Linked DNA regions of Homo sapiens. The protein of the gene in region 1 purifies or fractionates together with the protein of each later gene. This does not show direct contact. Each region holds a gene or a part of one and is shown on either strand. Other genes may lie near its edges.

Region 1 (6,919 bases):
AGTTCCAAAGGCAGTGGGAAAGAGTTTCTAACTCCAGCAAAAGTCCCAGGATTCACCCCTATTGGACTAATTCTGTCAATGCCCACTTCACTGTGGCCAGAGGCATTTGGAGTGCTAATTGGCTACAACTGAACCAGAGGAATACTTCGTGGAACCCACAGTTGAGCCCTTCTGAAAATCATGTGCTGCAGGTGAATTGAGGGAATGTGGTTTCCTAAAGGAAAACCCAGAAGTTTGCCAAAAGATGGGGTAAATGGATACTGGGTATAGAAAAGCAACAACTGTCCACTACAATTCCCAATTGCTCACAGAAAAAGACTCAGTAATGGGGCCTGTGGCGCAGACTAAATTGCATTAACAAGGTGCTGGTTCTTTCCAGGTCCTTCAGACATTTGCACAGATGCTGCTCCGTCTAGCCACACACAAACAGGACAGAGCAGTTGTGTCCTGTGATGGATATGAAGGCTGCTCTCCCAGCCTCCCAACTGCTCTGGCCTAGGGGACCCTATTTGTGATTTATTCAGTAATGGGTCTCATCCAGGCTACTCTCTTGGCCTCCTCAAGCTGTTTTTCCTCCTCCTGATATAAAAATAACACTTAAACAGGTTCCCCAACCCCATGTCCGAGACAAATCAGATCTCCAGAGATAGCAGCCAAATTCACCCTAGGGTCAGGGTGCAGGGTCCTTATTATATACCCAGTCTGCGAGTGAGCCAAGAAGTAGGGTTTCCAGAAATATGATGCCATGGCCAGAGGCTAAAATCAATCACCCGAGGAGTATTTATTACCCAACTGAAGCCAGTACCTCCTGCTGATTTGCCCTGCCAGACGATGAGTGGAGGCAGGCTTGTGGTCAGAGCAGGGTGGAGATCTGAGAGGCGAAAGGCAGGTGTAGGGTGAGAGAAGGGGCAAGGCAGAGCTCTTCTTGAAAACTGTGAAGTTGCTATGCTTTTAGTGTTGAGCAGTGCTGGTGTGTACCCCCAGCTGGAGTCCTCCTCCACCCCAACCTTGACAGCAGCAGGAGATGGCTACTGAAGGGTCAGAGCCCTCCCGTGCCTGCCTGCCTGCCTGCCTGCCTTCAAAGCCTCATGGTTGGAGGTATAGAGGGGGCAGGTCTGTGTCTTCCATAAAGCTTAGTGGTTATAAATGTGGTGCCTGAGTCTGGGTTTGATTCTTGGCTCCATCCCACTAGCTTTGAGATTTTGATCAAGTTACTTAATCTATTTATGCCTTGGTTTTGTCATCTGTAAAATTGTAATAGTCAAAGTATTTCCCTCACAGGGTTGCAAGGGATTACACAGGACATGGCATATAATGTGTTTTGCACAGTGTGTAGTAGACACTAAGCACTGCACGAACATGCAGGGTCATTATCTACATATGTAATTCCTAATCCTACCTCAATCCTGCAACGTAGATGTATTAGTTAGAGAGAGGCTTGGCTGCTATAACAAAGGTTCAATTTGTCGATCGTTTAAACAAGACAGAAATTTATTTATCTCTAACATAACAATCCAGAGGTAGGCAGACCAGGACAGGGGTGGGGGATGTTCTATCATTTTCAAACTGCATTTTCCATCGTTGGGTTCAGTTTGCTGCTCCGGCTCCCATCATCGTATTGTAATTCTAGCCAGTAAGAAAGGGTTCCCTTTCCTCCTAGGGGTACCCTTCTATCATATAATATATATGTATATAACATTGCTGCTCAAATTTCATGGTCAAACTTAGTCATATGGCCATACTATCTGCAAAAGAAGCTGTGAAATATAATCTTGCATTCAGTTAAAATTGTAGTGGTTTACTAACAGCAGAAGAAGGGTAGAAGAGATATTGCTCTACTAGAGCTCACCCATCTGGCCATCCCACACAAAAAACACAGTTACTGCCCTTCAAAAGGAGGCAAGTCAGAGTTCCATCTGAGTACGGCACCCAGCTGAGAGTCCAGGCTATCTGAGGGGTGGGCAGTTCCTTCTTCCAGGTAGATGGACACCCTATGGTCTGGTGACCTAAAAACTAACAGGCAGGTGATTTGCACCTCCTACTCCCCACAGACAACAGTGGAGGAAGAAGAGGGTAAGCTCAATTAAAACACTGACTCATGCTGAGCACACTGCTACGCGCCTATAGTCCCAGCTACTGAGATAGGAGGATCATTGAGCCCAGGAGTTTGAGACTAGCGTGGACAACATAGTGAGACACTGTCTCAAAAAAAAAAATCCACTTGCAACTGAAAGAATGGCAAACACCCAGCAGCTGCTGGATCTTAATTATCAAATCTGGTTGGGCAGGAATGGCTAAGCCCTTTCCTGGCAGTGGAGTAAGTTCTTGGTCAGCACATTTGACCACCCCTGGTTCTGCTCTCTGGGAAGATCTCCCCTTTCCACTCTCCTATGTAGCCTCTGGCTTTTCCTGCTGGGAAGCTGTTGTTTATCCAATATCCTTTGTCCCACACTGGCAAACTTGTGCTTTCTGCAGTCCTTCCAGCCTTCACAGCCCTCTTCCTGCTGGTGCGGATTTGGAGGGCTGGGAATAAGGCAAGGGAAGGGGTGTCAAACCAGGCTTTGCTGATCAGGCTTATGGTTTCTTTGCCAATACAACACCCTCACAATCTTAGAAGCCTTCTGAGTGGCTCCATGTTTGAGTAACCACAGCCAATGGCCTCATGTAGACCTTATTTTTATGCTTGAACACTCTGGACTTGGTGTTCTTCCTACTCTCCTTTCTCTCAAACTGGTGGTGGCTATCTTGAGTCCATTTGAAAAAACATGCTTGGTGTGAAGGAAATTCTCTTACACTGATCTCTGTCCTCTGAGCCAGTTCCCACTGTCCAGTGAGCAGATGTCCTTGAGAAAGGCTGGGGACCACAGGAACAGCCCTGGCCAAGGCTGTCCTCCCAACTCCATTCTCCTCCACCCTCCCCATTGGCAGAGTAGGAACATTGAGGGTTGATGGAAAACACATGTAATAAACTCAGACAGAAATTCACCAGTCTGTTGTTGAGTGTCCACTCCAGGGCCAGGGCTGGGATGGAAGAGGCTGGAAGGAGGAGAGAAAGGGAGGGGCAGAGAGAGGAAAGCCGGAGCAGCTGGGTCAGCATTCCCAATCCGGACATTGACTCAGGCTCCGGGAATGCCAAGGAAGAGGGTGGCAGCTACTGGAGCCAGGCTGGGATCCTGTTGGCACCAGGGATGTAGGCACAGCACTCACAGAGGGTTGGGGGCTGGGACACCTGCACACCCAGGCATATCTCCCAACCACAGGTGGAAACAGATGTCTCTTCCCCTGCGGGGAGCTCTGAGTGCTCCCCACGCCTTCGAGGTGATTCTCACAGCTCTTCACCTGCCTGAAACACCCACTCCATCTCCTTCACCTGAGAGAGGGACACACTCCAGGGACTCAAATCTGGACATCTGGACATACACTAGCTGCTCTCCTGGACTACCCACAAACCCCTTGCCTCATCTCCAGCCTCTGAGCTGGCTGCAACTTGCCCTTTCTAACTCCAGCACCACCCTCTACTGAAATTAGAACAAGGAAGAAAGTTATGCTGATCTGCCTCCATGTTCCCTTCTTTGGTGCCTGATAAAGATGAGGGAGGCTCTTGGAATAGGGGCTCAGGACTCTGAGAGCCCAACTCTGCTCAATGACCATGTTCCCACATGCTCCAAGCCACATCCCCTCAAAAAGGGTCCCTCTAGCTTGTCCTCAGTGACCCAGGAGGCAGCTGAGGACCAAGTACCCAGATTATCCGGTGCGCCCCTTCCCTCCCAGCAACCCCCAGCCTTCAGGGCTGTAGCAGCTGAGCAAATGGGGGCCCCTCCCTCTCATTGCCTGACACCCAATCAGAGAGAAACCGATCCTGGCAGGGCAGGGTGCCCGGGGCCGGGCCCAGAATAGTGCAGCCCAGCCACAGTGTCGCACACTTGCTCTCAGTTGGTCTGGGGCTGGCCACATGGAGCCCGGGCTGGAGCACGCACTGCGCAGGGTATGGGGGTCCCAGGGGAGCCGGAGCCGGGGCAGCTGAGGCCAGAAGATTGAGCGCACGGGCTGTGAATGTGTGTGTGGGCGTGTGTGTCTTCTGGTGTGTGTTTGGTCTGGATTTTCTCGTGAATATGGGCATGTGCATGTTTGGGCATATGTATTGTGAGTGTGTGTGGTTCTGTGTGCCTGGGAGTGTTTGGATGTGTGTGTTTCTGTGTGTGTTTGTGTATGGCTGCATGTCTGTGTATGGCGTGTGTCTGAGCGTGTGTATTGGTGTGCATGGGTGTGTAGGCGTGTGTTCAGGGAGAAGGGGTTTGGGAATGTAAGGCACTTTCCCCACTCCTTCAGAAACTCTTCTCCCCACAGACCCCTTCCTGGAGCAGCCTTGGGGGTTCTGAGCATCAAGGTAGGGAGAATGCCCCCTCCCTGGGGCCTAACCTCTTCCCCCACCTCCTTGTCCCCCACTTTTCTGGGACCCCAATTCCCTCCCAGCCTGGCTTTTATCTTCCTCCTTTTGGTCTTTCTTCCTCATTGTTCTTCCTCCTTTCCCCAGGTGTGTTTCCCTCACCTCCAATTTCCTCTTTTCAGAAGTGACTTTCCCACTTACTTGCTGTGTGATTTGCAGCAAATTGCTTAACCTCTCTGAATTTCTGGTCCCTCACTAGCAAAATAGGGATGATAATAATGCCTGCTTTATAAGGCTGCTGTAAGTTTTAAATGAGAAATATGTTGGAGAAAAGCCCATTGGAAGCTTGCAAATCCTAAAGATTATGAATAACATTTGAATTGATTTTGATGCATTACTCCCTATTAACCAAACAGGCCCCATTCCCCTTCCAGAGATGAGCTTCCTAGAGCAAGAAAACAGCAGCTCATGGCCATCACCAGCTGTGACCAGCAGCTCAGAAAGAATCCGTGGGAAACGGAGGGCCAAAGCCTTGAGATGGACAAGGCAGAAGTCGGTGGAGGAAGGGGAGCCACCAGGTCAGGGGGAAGGTGAGGCCAAGGCCAGTTCTGGGGAGGTGGGAGCCAGGGGAGTGGGAAATCCCAGAGGAGCCTGGGTCTGGTCTCTACCTCAGGTCCCTCCATAACACAGAGTTGGACCCAACCTTCATCTTGTGGCCTCAGTCTCCCTACATAGTAGAGAACAAGGCACTGCAGTGCCAGAGGCCAGCATGGCCAACTCAGAAAGATGGGACAGAGCCACTACCTGGGGCGACTCTCAGGTCAGCCCCTCACCTGCAAATAGGGCCACAGCATCCAGGCTTCCCACTGCTGCTGTGAGATGAATGGCGACAGCAGATGAGAACGTGCTTTGGAAGATGGAGTTACTGTCCTCTTCCCCTCCTCCCCCAAACAGGTCCCCGGTCCAGGCCAGCTGCTGAGTCCACCGGGCTGGAGGCCACATTCCCCAAGACCACACCCTTGGCTCAAGCTGATCCTGCCGGGGTGGGCACTCCACCAACAGGGTGGGACTGCCTCCCCTCTGACTGTACAGCCTCAGCTGCAGGCTCCAGCACAGATGATGTGGAGCTGGCCACGGAGTTCCCAGCCACAGAGGCCTGGGAGTGTGAGCTAGAAGGCCTGCTGGAAGAGAGGCCTGCCCTGTGCCTGTCCCCGCAGGCCCCATTTCCCAAGCTGGGCTGGGATGACGAACTGCGGAAACCCGGCGCCCAGATCTACATGCGCTTCATGCAGGAGCACACCTGCTACGATGCCATGGCAACTAGCTCCAAGCTAGTCATCTTCGACACCATGCTGGAGGTGAGGCCACGGCTCTGCCCAACCTGTACTCACTCTCCATCCACACGGTGCTGCAGCCGCCACTCCCACCCTGCAGGATGCCCTGCTGAGCCAGGTGCCCCTGCAAGCCCCCTGAAAGGACTCCTTCTTAGCACTATGGAGGCCAGTTGGGGGAGGGACAGCTTCTACTCTCTGTTAGCACACGTAATTGTCATCACAGCTCTGCCACTTAGTAGCTGTAGGACCTTGAGTTACATTACCTTTCTTGTCTCTAAAATGGGGATCGAAATGCCTGCTGCACCCTACATAGTTCAGAGGATTCTTGGACTACCCAGTATAAAGCGTGAACAAAGTATGTGTAAGACATTGCAGAGGCCGGGCACGGTGGCTCATGTCTGTAATCCCAGCACTTTAGGAGGTCGAGGTGGGCAAATCACAAGGTCAGGAGTTCGAGACCGGCCTGACCAACATGGTGAAACCCCATCTCTACTAAAAAAAAAAATACAAAAAATTAGCCGGCCGTGGTGGTGGGCGCCTGTAATCCCAGCTACTTTGGAGGCTGAGGTAGGCGAATCACTTGAACCCAGGAGGCAGAGGTTGCAGTGAGCCGAGATCGTGCCACTGCACTCCAGCCCGGGAGACAGTGCGAAATTCCATGTCAAAAAAAAAAAAAGGCATCACAGAGTGACTTAGAAAAAAGAGTAGGGGACTCTCTTGGTAACAGAAAAAATAATGAGCTCTGGCACCTGCTCTTCCATTAGGCTTAGCTATAAATGTCTATAATCTTATTCTTATCATTGTTATGCAGTGCAGTGTTTCCCAAAACACGGTGTATGTATTGTCCATAGCATGCATTTTGATTCTAATGGTTCGTGAAAAAATATGTCTATTTCAGTAGCTTTATATTTGTTTTAGGCTGTGTTAAAAAAATATAACCAGCATGTGCAGATAGTACTGCTTAGGACGGGGCACAAAATGAGTCAATATAAAATTTATCTACAAAAAAAGTATGTAAATATGCAAGTGTTATGTAAATAACTATGCCTCCGGTACTTAGTCTATCAAAAACTAGACTGTGTCTGTACACACATACCCTCCAAATGGAAACATGAACTTAGAATTTCTCACTCCCTGGTGTGCCAGGTGAGGGGCTCATGGTCTCAGGCCACAGCCTTATCTATGTACATGTCCCCAG
Region 2 (7,028 bases), on another chromosome or scaffold:
AAGCTTGATGTTCCCAAGCCATCCGAGTGTTTTCGCAGTTTCACTGCTGTGTGTGTGTGAGGCAGTAGCAGGTCCTGGTTAAGAGCACAGACTGAGGCCAAACTGAAGGCACTGAATGTGGACTCAGGCACTTACTGGCTGTGTGATTTAGGGCAATGTTTGTAGCTTTTTTGTGCTTCTATATCTTCATCTATAAAATAAGGATAAAAGGTATACTTCTTATCTCACAAGGTAGTTGTGAGGTTTTTGAGTTAATAAATGTAAAGCATTAAACAATAACTGTTACATAATACAGTAGTCCCGATTTACCCATGGGGAATATGTTCTAAGACCCCCAGAGGATGCCTGAAACTGCAGATTGTTCTGAACCCTTTATACACTTTTTTTCCCTATGCATACATATGTATGATAAAGCTGAATTTATGTTAAGCACAGTAAGAGATTAACAATGATAACTAATAATAAAACAGAACAATAATAACAATATGCCAGCATCACTACTGTTGGACTTTGGGGCCATTATTAAGTAAATTAAGGGTTACTTGAACACAAACTCTGTGATGCTGCAACAGTCAACCTGGTAACTGACCGCTACTAAGTGACTAATGGGCTGGCAATGTCTACAGCGTGGATATGCTGGGCAGAGGAGGGATAATTCACGTCCTGGGTGGGCTGGTGCAAGATTTCATCACTCTGCAGAATGGTATGCAATTTAAAACTTATGAATTGTTTATTTCTGGGGTCTTACATTTAATATTTTCAGACTATAGGTAACAGTGTGAAAAAAACCACGGATAAGAAGGGACTACTGTAAAGCACTGTGTCCTTGTGAGCTGTTGCTGCCATTGTGACAGCTGCCTACTGAAGAAGGCCAGGAAATGGTCAGCAGGTTCCTCAAACACAGTGTTCATAAATGGGGTTCCCTTTCTCCCCAGATGTGTATCTTGTCCAGTGTCCAGCCAGGAGCCTGGGATGTGTTTTCCCCATCCTGTTGTCCCTTTCTCCTGTTTACTTTTGGCATCGTTCTGCCACTGTCATCATGACTACCGTTTCCCTAAACTATGCCATCCCTCCCCACCTTGATGGTCATGCTAGCTTTGTCCTTCTACTTCTAGTCTTGCCCTCCTGTGATCCATTCTCCAGCACACAGGCAACATGATCTCCAAGGATGAGCATCTGCTTAAAGTCCTTCAGGGAGTGGTTTCGTGTTTCCTCTGGCATGAAAAGACTGATCCCCACGTGCTCTTTCCTGTTCTTCCCAGCCCAACACCTGCTCAACTCTGCTGCCGCTCCCTTTGTGTCCTTGCCAAAACACATTCTCCTCTCACCCCTCTTTACTCACTGACTCCTACTGAGCCTTCTGGTATCTGTGGAAATGACGCTGTCTCTGGAAGCTCTCCCTGATTTGTCAGTTAGGAGTTCTTCCTCTGTGCCTCTTTGGGGTTCCTCTTATAATGACACTCTTCCCAGGGTACTGTAGCTGTTCATTTTCTCTGCTGGATTGTGAGCTCAGGGAGCTACCATTTGAACTTTTTAGAAATATTCAAATGTGAGAGTTGGAAGGGTATTGCTGTTTGTAATATCTGAGGATGGGCTGAGCACTTAAGACATCTTGATTCAGAAGAGGAATGGCTGAATAGTTTGGTGACATAAAAATTTTCTTGAGCCCTAAGTAATTCCCCCCAGCTATATCAAAAAAGCAGCTCCAAGTTTGTAAGCTGTGAAATGTGTCATAGCTCAATACACAGAAAACGTAAACATGTTCCCTCAAAGTGTCTCTGAGGCGGTGTTTGAAACAGGTGTAGAGACCTTGAGCATTAGAATTGTAGGAGAAAGATGGTCAAGATCTTAATCAGTGCTTCTCTACCTAGGCTGCATGTGAGAATGGCCTGCAGCCTTAAACATATTTCTGCTGGATGTTAAATCCAAAGCTCTGAGTGGTGGAGATGGAGCTTTGGTATTCCTTCCCAGGTGAGTCTTACACACAGCCCAGGTGAAACAGCCTTCTACATGTTAGTCAATATTAATCATTAAGGAAAGAGGGGGGAAAGTAAAACTGTGAAGGTGTAGATTGAGCTTGAACTGAAAACAGTTCCCATCCACACACACCCGTGTGTGTCTGGAGAGGCTTCTGGGGGTCATGCTCCAAAAAGGGACACGTACCCATAGTAATCCAGTCCATATTTGGTTTATGTTGCCATTATGTAGCTATCTCATTTTGTGAAGTGGTTTTTGATGTACTAAGACAGCAGTTGGCTCATTGCATCCTAAAATTATTGCATCCCATGTAAAATGTCATTTTAAGATACCATGTAAACTGTTAAATTTTGCCTGTTGGCCTACCACTGCTTCTGGTATTGGAAATACATACTGGCCAGTTAGTTGCCTTCTGACTTGTTTATTTACAAAGCAAGGAGAGTAACCTGCCTCAGCCAGGGTGTCTGCGAGGGTGAGCCTTGTGGGAGTACCTACCGCTGTGGCATTGTGGGTGACCAAAGAGTAAATGAATTTGAATGGGGACTCTTTGGAAAAACAGATCTTCACCATAGAACATTTAAATGTTCAGAATGCCTAAGCTACACAAACCAGTGCTTTTTTAGTTGGTTGGGTTGAAAGAATTAAGTCCTAGGAGGATCTGAGTCAAGGTTCCTCTCTGCTGAGATATTTCTGTTGCAGGGGCTAGTCTGATGGGAATTAAAATCTTTCAGTTCAGCCTCTGTCTGTCTCTCCCCAGGGGAAACCACTATAAACGAAGCCACCATATCCTTCCAAAAATGTTCAAAAGAATCCTGCTTTAAATATGCTTCTGCCCTTTGCTTTTGTAACTTAACACACTGAAGATCCTCCCATAGGATCACAGACAGATCACTGCATCTATCTGACATGTTGTTTATCAGTATTCCCTAGGGTAGTAGTTGCTGGCACCCTGTCACCCCCTTCTCTAAGGGGGAATCTTTCTGCAATCTGTCTGATTTTTCCTTCCTTTGCTTCTTCACTGAGACTTTACTGAGTTTGCAGGCTCTTCTCCCACATTTTCTTCCACTTCTCTTGAGGCCTGCTGCTGGCCTCCATGCCAGAGAGATGACCATCACTCTTGGCAGGCTGAAGAAGGATGCCACAAAGCTGGGATAGCAAAGTTCAGTGATGAAATTAGAATCGGATATATCTTGACAGGCCAGAATCCAGCTAGTTGACATTTAACTGGGATAAATATAGAGTCTTGTGCACTGGTGTTAAAATAAAGAAAACCTGTAATAGTGTAATTTGAGAGAAGTTCTGTAAAGCATTATATAAATGTAGTTAACTATCCCTGAACTAACCTACTCCTGGAATGTAAGTTCTGGAAGAGACCTTAGTGTCAACATTCTTCATAGGCCCTCATTTACAGAGCTCCCTCTTTAGGCTAGGAAAGGCTCTTTGGTAAGTTTCTTTTTCTTTTTCTTTTTCTTTTTTTTAAGATGGAGTCTTGTTCTGTTGCCCAGGCTGGAGTGCAGTGGCACAATCTCGGCTCACTGCAACCTCTGCCTCCAGGGTTCACGCCATTCTCCTGCCTCAGCCTCCCGAGTAGCTGGGACTACAGGCACCCACCACCACGTCCAGCTAATTTTTTATATTTTTAGTAGAGACAGGGTTTCACCGTGTTAGCAAGGATGGTCTCGATCTCCTGACCTTGTGATCCGCCTGCCTCGGCCTCCCAAAGTGCTGGGATTACAGGCGTGAGCCACCGCGCCCAGCGTGTTTCAAATATAAAATGTGTTTTTTATTTTATTTTCTTGAGACAGAGTCTCGCTCTGTCCACCAGGCTGGAGTGCAGTGGCATGATCTCAGCTCACTGCAGCCTCTGCCTCCCCGGTTCAAGCGATTCTCCTGGCTTCAGCCTCCTGAGTAGCTCGGACTACAGGTGCGTGCCACCATGCCTGGCTAATTTTTGTATTTTTAGTAGAGATGGGGTTTCACCATGTTGGCCAGGATGGTCTTAATCTCTTGACCTCGTGATCCGCCCACCTCAGCCTCCCAAAGTGCTGGGATTACAGGTGTGAGCCACTGCACCCAGCCCATTTATTTTTTTGAAACAGAGTTTCACTCTTGTTGCCCAGGCTGGAATGCAATGGCGTGGTCTTGGCTCACTGCAGCCTCCGCTTCCCGTGTTCAAGTGATTCTCCTGTTTCAGCCTCCCAGGTAGCTGGGATTATAGGTGCCCGCCACCACACCCAGCTGATTTTTGTATTTTTATAGAGATGGGGTTTCATTATGTTGGCCAGGCTGGTCTCCAACTCCTGACCTCAGGTGATCCACCCGCCTCGGCCTCCCAAAGTGCTGGTATTACAGGCGTGAGCAGCCACGCCAGGCCCTCAAAGTATGTTTTAAAAACTGTAGATGAACTAAATTTTACTGCCCTGAAACAAGTAATTTGTTTTACTATTTGTTTACCATCCATATGCTAGGCACAAGGATAAAGCAGTGAGTGAGACTGGGAAGGAGACAGATACAGAAAGAAAAAATATTGGTGTCCACATAGGTGTGAAAACATGGGGATGTTCAGTGCAACTTAAGCATTCTGGCTTCACTGATGTAGGCAGTTGATGTTCTCACTAATACTCTTGTACAAACACAGTTGTAGTCCTCCCAGGCAGACATCTTCCTTAAGCCCCTTATACATAGAAACCACAGGACTATCAGATGAGTAATTTCTTTTTGCATATTCCCCAGTGTCAGATTTTTTTTTTTTTTTTTTTTTGAGACAGGGTCTGTCTCTGTCACCCAGGCTGGAGTGCAGTGGCACAATCTTGGCTCATTCCAGCCTCTGCCTCCTGGTTTCAAGCGATTCTTGTTCCTCAGCCTCCTGAGTAGCTGGGACCACAGGCGTGTGCCACCATGCTCAGCTAAGTTTTTTATTTTTACTAGAGACAGGGCTTCACCATGTTGACCAGGCTGGTCTCGAATTCCTGACCTCCAGTGATCTACCCGCCTCGGCCTCCCAAAGTGCTGGGATTACAGGCATGAGCCACCATGTCTGGCCCCCATTGTCAGATTTGAATTTTGATTGATTTAATTGCAGGCTTTGAGAACTGAAAAGGATCATTAGACAGCATCTTCTTTACCTTTCTTTAGTTAAATCTTATATATGCCATTTAAAATGTGTAGCTAAGGTCCAGTGCAGTGGTGCATGCCTGTAATCTCAGCACTTTGGGAGGCCGAGGAAAGTGGATCACTTGAGACCAGGAGTTCAAGACCAGCCTGGCCAACATGGCAAAACCCTGTCTCTACTAAAAATACAAAAATTAGCCAGGTGCAGTGGCGGACACCTGTATTCCCAGCTACTTGGGAGGCTGAGGCATGAGAATCGGTTGAGTGTGGGAGGCAGACTTTGCAGTAAGCCAAGATTGCACCACTGCACTCCAGCCTTGGCGACAGAGCAAGACTCTGTCTCAAAAGAAAGAAAAAAAGAAAGAAAATTTTTTTAAAAATGTGTAGCTAGGTTACCTATCAGAATAATATACTAGGGATCAGGAATCCTTGGTTATTTCTACTAACTAGTGAAAAAAAAAACAAACCTGGGCCAGGCCCTGTGGCTCACGCCTATAATCCCAGCACTTTGGGAGGCCGAGGCGGGTGGATCACTTGAAGTCAGGAGTTTGAGACCAGTCTGGCCAATGTGGTGAAACCCCGTCTCTACTGAAAATATGAAAATTAGCCAGGCGTGGTAGTGGGCACTTGTAGTCCCAGCTACTTGGGAGGCTGAGGCTGGAGAATCACTTGAACTGGGGAGGCAGAGGTTGCAATGAGCCGAGATGGTGCCACCACTGCACTCCAGCCTGGGTGACAGAGTAAGACTCTGTCTAAAAAAAAAAAAAAAAGGAAAGAAAGAAAGAAAAAACCTGGCTTTTCAGCACATCACTTTTCTGGGACTTAGTTCCTGCGTATGGAGAAAAACTCACAGTAGTATCTGGCATCTTAGATGGAAAAGTTATTTTTGTGGGATTGTCCTGTATTGAGCATTCCTGGCTAAATGAGTAGAGAATGAGTTCCCCACTCATTGTACTATTAAAACTACCCTTGCCCATTTCTTTTTTTCTTTTTCTTTTTCTTTTTTTTTTTTTGAGACAGAGTCTCGCTCTGTCGCCCAGGCTGGAGTGCAGTGGAGTGATCCTGGCTTGCTGCAGCCTCCACCTCCTGGGTTCTCCTGCCTCGGCCTCCTGAGTAGCTGGGATTACAGGCACATGCCACCAGGCCTAGCTAATTTTTGTATTTTTAGTGGAGACGGGGTTTCACCATGTTGGCCAGGCTGGTCTTGAACTCCTGATCTCAAGTGATCCACCCGTCTTGGCCTCCCAAAGTGCTGGGATTACAAGCGTGACCCACTGCGCCCGAACCCATTGCCTATTTCTTTTTTTTTTTTTGAGACGGAGTCTTGGCTCTGTCGCCAGGCTGGAGTGCAGTGGCGCGATCTTGGCTCACTGCAGCCTCCGCCTCCTGGGTTGAAGCAATTCTCCTGCCTCAGCCTCCCGAGTAGCTGAGACTACAGGTGCACGCCACCATGCCTGGCTAATTTTTGTGTTTTTAGTAGAGACGGGGTTTCACCATATTGGCCAGGATGGTCTCCATCTCTTGACCTTATGATCTGCCCACCTCGACCTCCCAAAGTGCTAGGATTATAGGCGTGAGCCACCGTGCCCGGCCGCCCCTTTCCCATTTCTGAAGAATGCAGAATAGCACTCCTGGTTGAGAACTACTGTCTTAATTTAATCTGATTCTAATAGTCTTTATCTTATTTTTGGATCCACTCTTCTCAGTTGTTAAAACACTGTCTTATTTGTGAGGGACTTTTACCTTTTTCAAATGCCATACATGTGTATGTATGCTCTTAGATAAGGAACTTGACTCAGCTACTATTATTTAAGAACCCACTATGCTCAAGAGATTGGATACAAATTATTCAGGATTACCAATTCTTGGTATTTGGAGTTGAAATCAGAATGTCACCGTATTAACCCAACATCGATCCCCAAACTGAGAACAAAAGGACA
Region 3 (6,595 bases), on another chromosome or scaffold:
TAGAAAAATTAGCTGGGTGTGGTGGTACTCACCTGTAATCCTCAGCTACTCGGGAGGCTGAGATGGGAGAATTGCTTAAACCTGGGAGGCAGAGTTTGCAGTGAGCCTAGATCATGCCATTGCACTCTACCTTAGGCAACAGAGCAAGACCCTGTTTCAAAAAAAAATAAAAAGAATATAATGTAGAATAATTAAATCAAGCTAGTTAACATATTCATTACCTCAAATACTTGACATTGTTTGTAGTGATAGGTTGGAGTTTTAAATCTGTGTATATCCAGGGGCAGGGGGTGAGAGGGCAATGCCGAAAGCTGAAAACCACCTTGAAGGAAAATGGTCATTTTCTGCCTTTGCTTCTTCTGTTGGGCGTTCCTTGATTATTCAAGTTGGGAGGGAAAACTAAAAAGTGTGTGTACATCAGTAAGGCGTCATTTCCCACACTAAAGCACTTTATTCAACAAACATTAAATTCCTATTATGTGCCAGCCATTCTTCTAGACGGTAGGACCGTATCAGGTGACAGAACAAAGTCCTGCCCTTGTGGACCTTTCCGTCTCATAAGGGAAGCCAGACAGTTTCTCCTTCCTGTGGTGGAAAGAGCTCTGGAGAAGAGTCAAGGTGAGGAGAATAGGGAGTATTGGGCAGCATGTACTCAAGAAGGCCTCGCAGATAAGGTAACATTTGAGAAAGCCCTGAAGGAAGTGAGGGGATGAGTAATGTGAATATCTGGGGAAGAGAACTTCTACATGGAGAGCACAGCGAAGGGCAAAGGCCAGGCAGGAACATACCTGGTGGATTGGAGGAGCAGCATGGGAGGCCTGTGTGACTGGAGCTGAAGGAGTGACGGGGAAGAGTTGTTGGAGGTGAGGTCGGAGATTTAGCTGAAACCAAGACCATGCATGCATGGCTTCTTGGAAGTTGAAAAGTACTGTGGTGTGAATAGTTGTTTCTCCCTAAAGTCTTTGTTGAAATCCTAACTCCTGAGATGATGGTGTTAGGAGGTGTGGCCATTTGGGAGATGAGTAGGTCATGAGGGCAGAGCCCTTTAAATGGGGTTAGTGCCCTTACCCAAGAGCACAGCACCGCACTGGAAATGAAGGATGCCCCTGCTGTGGTGTGCATAGGGTTTCTTTGCCCCCTGGCAGGTCTCATGTTGAAATTTGGTACCCCCAGACCCCCCCAACCCCCGCAAAAAAATTTGATCCCCAGTGTTGAAGGTGGGGCCTGGTGGGAGATGTTTGGATTATGGGGGCGGGTTTCTTGTGTATGGCTTGGTACCATTCTCATGGGAGTGAGTTCTCATGCTTTGTTTCTTCACTGACTGGCTGTTGAAAAGAGCCTGGCACCTCCTCTCTCATTTCCTCTCTGGCCACATGATTTCTGTACAGGTGGCTCCCCTTCGCCTTCCACCACGAATGCAAGCAGCCAGAAACCCTCTCCAGAAGCAGATGCTGCACCATGCTTGTATAGCCTGCAGACCTGTGGGCCAAACAAACCTCTTTTCTTCATAAATTACCCAGCCTCAGGTATTCCTTTAGAGCAACACAAACAGACTAAGACACCCGTGGAGACAGAGGCCTCCCAAGGTTCTTCTGCACTCACAGGACCAATCCTGCCACGCCTCTGACCATACTGAATTGCAGAGGCCTGGGTAACTGCCCTTAAAACTTTATAAGCTAGGATCATACTTATCCCCAAATAATTGTGGTAGAATTGGTGTCTGGGGGCATCCCTCATTTCAGGTATTGTGTTGGTTTTCTACTTGGTTTTCTACTTGTATTTGAAGCTACCACGAATTGGTCTTCACAGCATCTTGTTTGGACACTAATGATTGGATTCAGGGCCCACCCTAATATAATATGATCTCATCTTAACTTAGTTACATCTGCAAAGATCCTCTTTCCAAATTACCAGAGATTAGAACTTCAGCATATCTTTTTGTCAAATTCAGTTCAACCCACAACAGGTGCCTTGTTCTGGGTTTGATTATGATGAGAGTCTTCTGGGCTTAAATATGCTTGGGGACTGAGACAGGAATTATTGAAATACAGTTAGAAAGGTCCACTATGTTAGGGATGTCCTGTCCTGTTGGAATTTTTTCTTTTAAGAAATGTCTACTACGTTTATTTAAACTAATTAAAAATTTAAAGATGAAGGCAGTATCGTGGCACATGCCTCTAAGGCAAGAGGATTGCTGGAGCCCAGGAGTTTGAGGCCAGCCTGGGCAATATAACAAGACCCCATTTCTAGAAACAAAACAAAAATATAGATAGATATGTTAATTTGCATCATTGTTTGGAAACCTGAAGACTTTAGGATATGCAGTGGTAAAATTCATCAAAGTGTTAGAAAGCAGAGATTTTACAGAAGAAGGAATTTTTAAAGCTGAGAGGTATAGCCTGAGTTTGGCTGGGGAGTCTGGGTGGGAGGGCAGAAGAGCTCTTGCTGATGTTCCAAGTTGATGGTTTTGCCAGCTGTGGCAGCAAGTTGGCAGAGATTGAATGCAACAGACCAGAGTCCCTGGGCCCTGGCGGACTTTTGTAGGAGGAGAAGTGGGCTTATTCCATTCGCCTTTCCCCTGCATTCACATGGGGTCCACAGGGTGCCCAGGTGGTGTATGGCACCGAGCTATTGCTCCCCTCTTTGTGACACCCAGTGGACATACATTCTTTAGTGTGTGTCAGGGCTTACTAGTATTTGCCTTTTTTCAGCTCACCACAGTTAAAGTCTAAGAGTTGTTTATCGGCCTGGCACGGTGGCTCACCCCTGTAATCCCAACACTTTGGGAGGCCGAGGCGGGCAGATCACGAGGTCAGGAGTTTGAGACCAGCTTGGCTAACACAGTGAAACCCCATCTCTACTAAAAATAGAAAAAATTAGCCAGCGTGGTGGTGTGTGCCTGTAATCCCAACTACTTGGGAGGCTGAGGCGGGAGAATCGTGTGAACCCGGGAGGCGGAGGTTGCAGTGAGCCGAGATGGCGCCATTGCACTCCAGCCTGGGCAACAGTGCGAGATTCCGTCTCAAAAAAAAAAAAAAGAGTTGTTTATCAAAGGAAGTTTAAATTCCCACTCTGATATCACAGTGATAGGACTGTATTTGGTTTAGCAATGTAATTAAAATTCCTTAGCAGCAGTATGCATTTGCAGGCATTGGATTGAATGGTTATCATGGTCACCATGAGTTGGAGTTTTGCTCTTGTTGCCCAGGCTGGAGTGCGATGGCATGGCCTTGGCTCACTGCAGCCTCCGCCTCCTGGGTTCAAGTGATTCTCCTGCCTCAGCCCCTAAGTAGCTGGGATTACAGGTGCCCCCACCACACCTGTCTAATTTTTTTGTAGAGACAGGGTTTTGCCATGTTGGCCAGGCTGGTCTTAAACTCCTGGCCTCAGGTGATCTGCCCGCCTTGGCCTCCCAAAGTGTTGGGATTATAGGCATGAGCCACTGTGTCTGGCCATGAGTTTTTATGGAGCTCCTGTTGTGTTCCAAGGAATTCTCTGCAACTTAGGACAGATGGGAGATGAGTAAAGAGGGTTCTTTCTAGCCTTAAGGAAATTTGAAGCAAGGAGAGGACAGACAGGAATCAGAGGTTCACGGAAGAACTGATAAAGATTTGTGTATGCCACATTTGGCTTCTGTAGGAAAAAGCCTCTATATGTATCATTTAATAAATAGCTAAGCGCGGTGGCTCACGCCTGTAATGCCAGCACTTTGGGAGACCGAGGAGGGAGGATCGCTTGGGTCCAGGAGTTTGAGATCAGCCTGGGCAATACAAAAAATAAAAAATTGAAGTTTCTCATTTCTACAAAAAAAAAAAAAAAATTAGCCGGGCATGGTGGTACACATCTATAGTCCCAGTGCACCTAGAGTCCCAGCTACTTGGGCTGAGGTGGGAGGTAGAGGCTACAGTGAACCGTGATTGCACCATTGCACTCTGAGCTGAGACCTTGTCTCAAAAATAAATAAAACATACAAACAACTAATTAATTGGACAGAGAGCTCACTTGTCCTCTGCCCTAAACTCTCCCTGCTTCCCTGAGTCCTGTGGGCACTTTAATGGGTGGAACAGAATCAACAGGTGCTTGGGTGAAGGGGGTGGAGGTGAGAGAAGGGCCTGGGCTGCCTGGTGACTGTATTACTGGTTCCAGTGTGGCTCAGTCACATATGCCCTGGGAGGTGATAATTTTGAGTATTCCCTCAGGACATGAATAGTATTCCTCTAAAACGGAGGCTTCATTTCATGTCTGTTAACTGGGAATACAGCCACAACTATGTCCTCGGGGCAAGGACCACTGGTAAAACCACCATACTTCTGGGGTGAGCACAGGGCAAATAATGTACAGACATCATTTCCTTTGACTAATCTTTGAAATCTTGGCTCCTGAAAGTAGTGAAAGTTCTTTGTCTAAGCCGAGATTTTTAATTTAGGACCCAGATGGAGTAGAAGGTAAGCCTCCAAAAGGTCTGCTTTCCTCAGTGTTTTAGTGTCCCAGATTCCTGGCAGGCAGCAGTCTCATTAGAAAAGCAGATTGCCTTCTGACTCACCCACTCAGTGCGATGCGAGACAGCCCCACAGCCCTCACAGCAGCCCATATTCCTGCTGGACAGGGCAGAGCGTGCACCATCCATTTTATAGCTGCAGTGGCTACAGACGCCTGGCCCAGGCCATGGAAAACCTTGAGAGGAGATAGTCTGTTACGGACAGGAGCTTTGTCCTGGAATTTCCTGGCCTTTGTCTGTCTGGGATAACTTCATGTACTGAGACGCCTGTTTTTTAGAGTCTTCTTCCTTCTGGGGGAAGAGTGCTACTGCCTGTCCTCCACAGAGCACTTTTGCTTCTACCAAAGCCATCTTCTCCCTGCTGCCTGCCCGTGATCACCCATGGTTCGGAGGTGAGGGGAGCACTGTGGGCAGGTGTGTGTACCTGGCTTGCAGTATACTCCTGAAAGTTGCCTGTCACAAAGGAAAAGCCATAACCATTGGACATCAAAGCTGTGTCTTCCAGCCCGGCCCATTCACTCTGGTCCTAACCTTTGTCTGTCTCTCATATTGCAGCAGAAAAAGTCCTACCTGGAGCGAAGCGTTAAGGAAGCTGAGGACAACATCCGGGAGATGCTGATGGCACGAAGGGCCCAGTAGGGAGCCTCTCTGGGAAGCTCTTCCTCCTGCCCCTCCCATTCCTGGTGGGGGCAGAGGAGTGTCTGCAGGGAAACAGCTTCTCCTCTGCCCCGATGGATGCTTTATTTGGATGGCCTGGCAACATCACATTTTCTGCATCACCCTGAGCCCCATTTGCTTCCCAGCCCTGGAGTTTTTACCCGGCTTTGCCTGCCACCTCTGCCCAGGACACTCTTCCCTCTCGGGATGTGTGATGAACTCCCAGGAGAGGGAAGATGGGAGCCAGGGCAAGATAGGAAGCTCTGCCTGAGCTTTCCACTAGGCACGCCAGCCAGACCAATAAAAAGCGTCTGTCCCACTCTGCTAAGCCTGGTTTTCTTGAGCAGAGGGATGGAACAGAGGGTGAGAGAGGCAGTGGCCGTCTCCACCTCAGCTCCTGCTCCCTCTGCATCAGAGCCCTTCCTTTCTTGGGGGATGGGCCTTGCCCTCTTCTCTTTTCCCTTCCTGTACCTTTGACTAACGCTCAGCTTCCGGGCCTGCATGCAGTAGACAGAAGAGGAAGAAAGAACAGATGTTCACAGCTGAATCTCAGTGAACAGAATAGCAGTCCCTGGATGGCAGTCTGCCTAAAGATTCCTTTCCCTGCCTTCTCCCATACATTCCAAAAGGAAGTTCAACAGTAAGCAGCACCTCCAAGACTGTCTCCTTTTGGCCAATATCATAAGATGGACGCCATAATCCTGAGGCCTCCTAGAGGCTGAGGGGGCAACGGTGTGATCCAGCTGGCTCATCCCAGCCCAGGTGGGCCAATTATTCAATTTTCAAGAATTTTGTTGCAAGCCAGTTGTCAAACACAGCCATTATAATTATGTAAATTTGCAAATTATGTTAAAAACAAGGACAATAAATATTCAAAATGCATCCCTAATTACTACATTTGACCACGATCTGTGCTCTATCTGTGCACTGACTGTGATCTGTGAGGTTGGCTCTGTTGTGTCTGGGTGGTAGAAATCCCACATGATGTCAGGTCCTGTGCTGCCCTTCCCAGCTCCAGTCAGTGACATCACATTGGTAACTTGAAATCAGCCATGGCATGGTGAGAACACGTACACCACAGAAATAAGACACAGGACATCAGAAATAAGACACAGGACATGCAACAAAACATGGCTTTTTTTTTTTTTTTAAAGAGAGCACCGGTAAACATTTATCAGCACGTCCACTGCTTCGGAGGGAAGGCAGAGTCGGCAGGGAGCTAGCTGTCAGCTGCGGCTTCTCGGGCTGGCTGGGCTGGGCGGGCCAGCTGATGGAGGAAAATCGGACTTGCTGCTATGGCAGCCTGGCGCCACCCTGTGGCCAAATATGAGATGAGTGGCACGGCTGACGAGCTGGGGTGAGGGGTGAGGGGACATCCAGAAGGGAAAACTTCAGCCAGGAGCGGTGGCTCACGCCTGTAATCCCAGCATTTTGGGAGGC
Region 4 (7,028 bases), on another chromosome or scaffold:
ATGTATTAATTGATTCCTTTATACATCTGCTAATTTTGTAGTTAGGATATAACAAAAGAATATGACCTTTGAATTTATAAGATTTTTTCTGTGAAAATTGTTTATATCTGGGGTTGTCTCATTATGTATTCAATATGGAAATGGGATTATATACTTCACTATAATTCATAAAGGGAAAATAATAATTTGTTATACAGAGGCAGACAGTTTGATTTACTTAGTTTATTATTCAGCAAATAAATATTTGAGTACCAGCCAAATCTGTGGTAGGAGAAGAAAAATAGTCATGGCTCCTCTTCCAGTGTAGTGGGGGTATTGAGAAATAAATTATGTAATCACACAAACAGATGCAAAATGCAATGGTGATGAAGACAGTGCTGGAAATATATGCAATACCTTGAGAGTATAAATTAAGATTTAATTTTGTTGAGGGAGTCGGGGAAGGCTTTCTTGATGCTTGAATGAGATCTGAAAGTTGAGCAAGAGTTAACTTGGCAAAAGGTGGACTGGAAGACCATTATAGGCAAAGAAAGCAGTATTGGCAAAGTGATCAGCAGGGTGGAGTATGACAAATACAAGGAACTTAAGGAAGGCCAACGTGGCTAAAATGGAAACAGCAGTAGGAAATGCACTGCAAAATGGGACTGGAGAGATAGGTATGGTGGATATTCTCCGAAGACTCTCTTTCCCCTTCAAAGAACTATGTCTTCTGATATTCAGTTTCCTCCCCTTGAATCTGGGCTGATGCCATGACTTGATTTTGACCTCTAGAATAAGGTAGAAAATATGCTGAATGACTTTGGAGGGTAGGTCAGAAGAGGTTTTACAGCTTTTATCTTGGTCTTTTGTAAAGTACACTCTGGGGAAAGTAACTTGTCATGTAAGAAGTGGAACACTCTGAGACTGCCATGCTTTATGGAACCTGAAACTAGCCTGGTAGAGAGAAAGATGCCTGACCAGCCCTCAGACATGTGAAGGGAGATGCCATCTTGGATGCCAAGCTCAATTGAGCCTTCACATGACTCCAGCCTTAGCCAAATTCTTACTACAACCACATGTGGCCAACTTGTTCTGCAGCAACAGATGACCAGAATAATGAATATGAATCAGCCCATCCAGGATATTGTTGGTCATGTTAAGGAATATTGCCATAAGCAAAGGGATGACTGGATTAAATCTTTATTATTAGTTTTTAAACCACTCTATAGATTAGAGAATGAATTAGAGGATTGGCTAGAGTAGACAAGAATAGATGACTTCCTTGATTATTGTAATAATTCGGGCAATTTAACTGAACTATTTCAGTAGCTTGGACTCAGGTGGTGGTAGAGATGGAGAGATGAAGGATGATGTTAAGGAGGTGGATTGAACAGGGCTTGATGATGGATTGCACATGGAAGTGAGGGAGAAGTGTCAAGGGTATCTCCTAGAATTCTGGCTATGCAACGTCATGGTGTGATTACCAGAACACCAGAAGACGGAGAACACCAGAAGAGGACCGAGTTTTGGGGAACACGGATAATGAACTTAGTTTTAGACATGATGTATTTCAGATGCTTTCAAATATCCAAGAAGAGATGTGACAATTGGATCTACAGATCCCATTTCTGGCAAAATGGGACCTGTAGTGTAGATCCGGTTGTCATATCTCTTCTTAGTCCTCGTTTCTTAGGACTAAGAAACGGGGCCTGGGCTGAATATATAAAATTGTGTGTTATTTGCATATTGGTGATAGCTAAATACATGGATGTTGATTCAGAACTTCCCAGGGCCCTACCATAAGATGTGCTGTGATGGAACATACATGTGCTAAGGTAGTGATTAAAGCCTTCAGGCCAGAGGCCTCCAGTTTTTTTGGTTTTGTTTTTTTTTTCTTGAGACAGGTTCTTACTCTGTTGCTCAGGCCGGAGTGCAGTGGTATACTCATAGCTCACTGCAGTCTTGACCTCTCAGGCCCAACTAATCCTCCCACCTCAGTCTCCTGAGTAGCCACCACACTCGTCTAATTTTGTTGTATTTTTTATAGAGATGAGGTTTCACCAGCTTGCCCAGGCTGGTGTCAAACTCCTGGGCTCAAGCAATTTGCCTGCCTTGGCCTCCCAAAGTGCCAGGATTACAGGCATGAGCCACCACACCAGGCCCAGCGACCTCCAGTTCTAAGATGTCATACACATATTGTCATTTTCTCTGTGTACCACAGTGTGAAAAACTTTGAGGCGCTCCATATGAGATAACCTAGGGAGAAAGAGTAATCTAAGAAAAGGAGAAAGCCTGGACAAAGCTTTGAAAAACCTTCACATTTAATGACTAGGGAGAGGAAGGTGAATGTAGCTGCCGGCAAGGTGACAAAAACCAGGAGATGATAATATCACAGAGTCAAGAGCAAGAAAATACTTCAAGAAAGGAGTCTTCATGCAAAAGTTTAAGAAAGAGCAAAGATGGTAAGGACCAAAAATGTCTTTTGAAGTTAGTGTCATGGAGATCATTAGGGACTTTAGTGACAGTTGTTTATATTTGTTTATATTCAAGCTCTTTTTAAAGAATTGAAGAATTATCTATTTCCATCTAATGTAATATTCCAATGTACCTTTATTTTAATTGTAAACTGACCTCAAAGCAGCTTAACATAAATGAAAAGGTTAATATTCCTTTACTCTGAAGCTCATTTAGGTTTTCTATGAAGCGTAATTGTCATAATTGTGTTTTAGAAGACATTGCCATATCCTTTTCACCTTTAAAAAACATGTAATCTTGAAATTGCTTGAGAAAATGTTTTCAGTGAGTAGAAAAATAAAATAAATTGACTCCTGGTTTTGAGACATATCATTTAATATGTACTCTTATGCTTTCTTAGAAATCCTACAGTAAATAGGTTTATTTTTAGTGACTCTCATGTCCTATACCTGGAGAAATCTAAGGTTAGAGATAGTGTCTTAGTTTAAAGTTAGGTAAGGTCTTAGTTCATTTTTAACTATGTTCTACACTAGGCTAGACTTTTACTGAATTAAAGAGATTGAATACATTTTGGCAGTCTTTTAAATTGCTGAGTCTCCCTGCGTACTTGCAGAGTATAAGGTTGTCTGTGGATTGGCAGGAAGAGATGACACAGATCCAGGGACTCTTACCACATGCACAACCCATTGTAAGACTAGATTAAATTCTCACTTTACTTGCCAAGGATTCGGAAACCCACTGGAAGCCAGATTGTCACAATGAGGAGAAAAGGATGCAGGATATTTGAGAGCAGCTTCCTGAAGCTCCCCCAAGCCCCAGTAGAGTGTTCACCTGCTGTGATACTGAGCAAGCAGGGCCTTGGCAAATATGAGAAGCCTATTGTGCTATGCTAATGCTAATGCTCCATTTAAGGGAATTTTTTTCAAAATGGTTCTTGAATCAAAATTTGCTTCACTGAGGCCACATCCTCTTCAAGGAAAAATAGAGCCCACACATTGGTGAAATAGATCGGCTTCTAGCTTTCCAGTATGGTGGTGAGCTCATTTGCTGTTGTAGTCTTTTTGTCATTATTCTGTAGGCATCAGGCTCCAGGATTCTTATATTCTGTTTTATAATGCCCACATTTCCTTCTGTCTATACTGAGCATCTTTAAAATATTAAGAAATGTTTCATTCAGTCATCCTTTCAAATATTTGAATGCCTATTACAGTATTCCAGATGCTGGAGAGCTTACATTCCTGTGAGAGATACATACAGTAAGCGTTATAATTTCAGAGGGTGAAGAAAATAAAGCAACCTGTGAGGGTGGAGAGTAACTGTTTGGATGGCAAATGTTTGAGATGAGCGTCCAGGAAAGACAACTCAGAGATAGCAATCACCGAGAGACCTGAAACATGAGTTGGATCAGCCTTTGGAAGATTTACTGAAAGAGTGCTCCAGGCAACGGGAACAGCAAGTATAACACTTGCTATTTTAAAAACAAGGAGGAGGCTGGGCACTGCGGCTCATGCCTGTAGTCCCAGCTACTCATGAGCCTGATGCTGGAGGATCTCTTGAGCCCAGGAGCTTGAGGCTGCAGTGAGCTGCGATTGTGCCATTGTACTCCAGCCTGCGCAACAGAGTGAGACTCTGTCTCAAAAATAAATAAATAAATAAACAAAAACAAGGGACAGTGGGTTAGAGCATGGTGACTTAGAGGACAGCAGAAGAGGTAGAGGAGGTGCGAGGTGTAAATGAGGGAAGCCCAGGGGAGATTTCTATTCCACCTGCTGAAGAAGGGATTATGTCCTGAGGATAATGAGAAGCTATGGAGAGGTTGGAGCAAAGGAGAGACATGAAAACACTTTACTTTTTAAAAAAATCACCCTTGGTTGGCATGTGGAGGAGAACAGACTAATGAGACATGACACTAATCAGGATGCTGTTAGAGCAGAAGAGGCAACAGGGGACCAGGGTACAGGTGACAGAAGCACTGAGGTGTGGTTGGTGTCAGGATGTATTTTAAACAGGACTTGCTGATGGGTTGAGTCAGTGAAAAGAAAGGAATCACAAATCTCCAAAAATGACCCAACTAAGTAGGTACAAGGTTATATCTGAGATAGGCAAACAGGAGGAAGAGTTGGCCATGTGTTTGGGAGGTGGGAGAAGAACAGTGGAAGTCACTATTCTGTTTCAGTCATGTGGAGTTTGCAATACCTTTAGTTATTCAATTAGAAATGTGAATTAGGCAGTTTGTTGTACAAATCTGAGGTCTGAGAAAACTTGGGGTTGGAGAGCAAATTTCATTCAACAATTATTTATTAAATGTACAGTAGCATTTTCCTGGAGAGGGAGACGATGCTCTCAATTTCCTGTTTGTTTCCAAGGACTATGCAGACTCTTCAAGAATGTAAAACTTGTAGGGTAGAGCATTCTGTTAAAATTTTGGAAGGTTTGCCAAATGCATACAAATGTTAGCTAGATGGATATAGATATTGGAGAAGAAAGTTAACAGGAGGGATGTTCATAACTATCTTTGAGGGCAATAAACAGCTATCTGGGAAGTGATCTAAATGGAAACTGTAATACTTCCATTTGGGAAAAGCAGGTAACCCTGAATACACCTTGTGCTCAGGTGTTTTGTGTTTCTTTCTTTTTTTTTTTTTTTTTTTTTGAGACAGACTCTCACTCTGTTGCCCAGGCTGGAGTGCAGTGGCATGATCTCGGCTCACTGCAACCCCTACCTCCTAGGTTCAAGCAATTCTCCTTCCTCAGCCTCCCAAGTAGATGAGACTGCAGGTGCCTGCCACCACACTTGACTAATTTTTGTATTTTTAGGAGAGGTGGGGTTTCACCATGTTGGCCAGGCTGGTCTCGAGCTCCTGACCTCAAATGATCCACCCACCTTGGCCTCCCAAAGTGCTTGGATTACAGGCATGAGCCACCGCGCCTGGCCTGTGCTTCATTTTTAATGAGTAAGAGGTATTCAATAAATTGGGAATGGCATTCCATAGTAGCTCCTGAAAAGGAATACATTCTTCCTGCTGTTTCTGTTATTTTATGAGGGTTTCTATGCTTTTTTAGAAAAATTTTTGGTGGTAATGGGGGTGTGCAAAGGAGTTTATGTTGCTTTTGAACTTTTCTAGATTTTTTCTTTTCCAGTTGCTGTTGTAAAGTGAGTTCCTTTTCTTCTGTAAAAACCACAACAACCAAATGTGAAAAAAGCAAAAAGCATGGTTCCTTTTTCTGGACTTCAGGTGCATTGTGCAAGTATTGTGTAACTAACTCCCTTTAGAGTCCAGAGAAGGTCTGCCACCAGGTAGTGTTTGGCTTGGGAGACCTGAGGCTTTTTATCTCCGCCAGTTACTACCTGTTTGGCCTTGGAATCGTTACTTTACATCTCAGGGCCTCAGTTTCCCACATTTATCCAAGGAGTGGTGCATTATGTTTCCTTTGGCTTTTATATTTTATGACACAGTTGTTCTTAGGAAGCTGGACACACTTAGGAAAATATATCTATAAATTTACCTTTGGCTTTTATATTTTATGACACAGTTGTTCTTAGGAAGCTGGACACACTTAGGAAAATATATCTATAAATTTAAAATGTAGATGCTTGTTATCCTTTCTTATCTCACTCTTTTACTTCCAATGTCCCTCTTTCACCTAAATAGCTATTCCTTCCAGTATGCTTTTAGAAATGAGAAAGATAATATATTGAAGATTAAGGATGTTACATGACTCTTGTAAAAATTAGAAGCCCAACTAGCATGCACTGTTTTATTTCTCTGTAGAATATATTTGCATGTGTGTGCTGCATGATTGATTAGGGCATTTTATTCTAAGCATTTACTTCTAAAGGCAATGGCAAAATTTTTCTTCCTCTCATATTGAGATATTTAGGCTTGGTCAATCTGTAGTAAGGATTTTAAAACAGTGTACAAGAAAGCCCCGAATTTTTTGACATTTTTAACATGTGATTTCCACAGGGGGAGAATTTGGAAGACGGCATGTTACAATATGACATTTTATTGTTTGAGAGATTAAGTGCTAAGACTGACAATCCAGAGGAGAAACAATATAGAGAAATGATAGTGAGTAGACTTAAAGTGAGATTTTCAGACACCTTTTAGACCATTGGACATATCCAAATAAACATTGATTTCTATTAGCTGTATGGATTTTACAAACTAATATAAAGTTATTTTAAAGTTTTGTAACAAAAGCATTTTCCAAGTTTATAGAATTTGGTTGTCATGTTCTAGTTCTCTATATAAAATACCTTGCCAGGCTCAGCAAAAGTCGTATTTGGATTTGCTACCATCCCTTAATGAGGACATAGGTCATTATTAAAACTATCAGACATGCCTGAATACAAGATGACCTAAGTGGAAGCCATGTGGTCTTTTATGACCCAGCTTCAAAAGTCAAATATAATGTCATTTCTGCCATCCTCTATTTGTCAAAGCAGTTACAAATACCCAGATTCAAGACCTTACCTCTCAATGGGAGCAGTGCCAAAGAAGTTGTGGCTTTTTTGTAAAACCACCATAATAAGCCATGTCATATCCATAGAATGAAACAACATGATGCTG

What was found.
Region 2: the proteins of PRKAG3 (region 1) and CLTCL1 purify together in Homo sapiens (affinity purification with mass spectrometry; 2 studies listed by BioGRID and IntAct, with this or other methods). This does not show direct contact.
Region 3: the proteins of PRKAG3 (region 1) and PFDN1 purify together in Homo sapiens (affinity purification with mass spectrometry; 4 studies listed by BioGRID and IntAct, with this or other methods). This does not show direct contact.
Region 4: the proteins of PRKAG3 (region 1) and PIP4P2 purify together in Homo sapiens (affinity purification with mass spectrometry; 3 studies listed by BioGRID and IntAct, with this or other methods). This does not show direct contact.

The regions. Positions count from the first base shown.
Region 1 is NC_000002.12:218,828,804-218,835,722, reverse strand, and holds the start of PRKAG3 (5'-AMP-activated protein kinase subunit gamma-3), read left to right. Parts: upstream 1-3,919; 5' UTR 3,920-3,952; coding exon 3,953-3,985; intron 3,986-4,347; coding exon 4,348-4,387; intron 4,388-4,821; coding exon 4,822-4,977; intron 4,978-5,341; coding exon 5,342-5,745; intron 5,746-6,919. UniProt on the Homo sapiens protein: AMP/ATP-binding subunit of AMP-activated protein kinase (AMPK), an energy sensor protein kinase that plays a key role in regulating cellular energy metabolism.
Region 2 is NC_000022.11:19,281,702-19,288,729, reverse strand, and holds part of CLTCL1 (clathrin heavy chain 2), read left to right. Parts: intron 1-7,028. UniProt on the Homo sapiens protein: Clathrin is the major protein of the polyhedral coat of coated pits and vesicles. Two different adapter protein complexes link the clathrin lattice either to the plasma membrane or to the trans-Golgi network.
Region 3 is NC_000005.10:140,244,516-140,251,110, reverse strand, and holds the end of PFDN1 (prefoldin subunit 1), read left to right. Parts: intron 1-5,053; coding exon 5,054-5,137; 3' UTR 5,138-6,076; downstream 6,077-6,595. UniProt on the Homo sapiens protein: Binds specifically to cytosolic chaperonin (c-CPN) and transfers target proteins to it. Binds to nascent polypeptide chain and promotes folding in an environment in which there are many competing pathways for nonnative proteins.
Region 4 is NC_000008.11:91,030,860-91,037,887, reverse strand, and holds part of PIP4P2 (type 2 phosphatidylinositol 4,5-bisphosphate 4-phosphatase), read left to right. Parts: intron 1-7,028. UniProt on the Homo sapiens protein: Catalyzes the hydrolysis of phosphatidylinositol-4,5-bisphosphate (PtdIns-4,5-P2) to phosphatidylinositol-4-phosphate (PtdIns-4-P).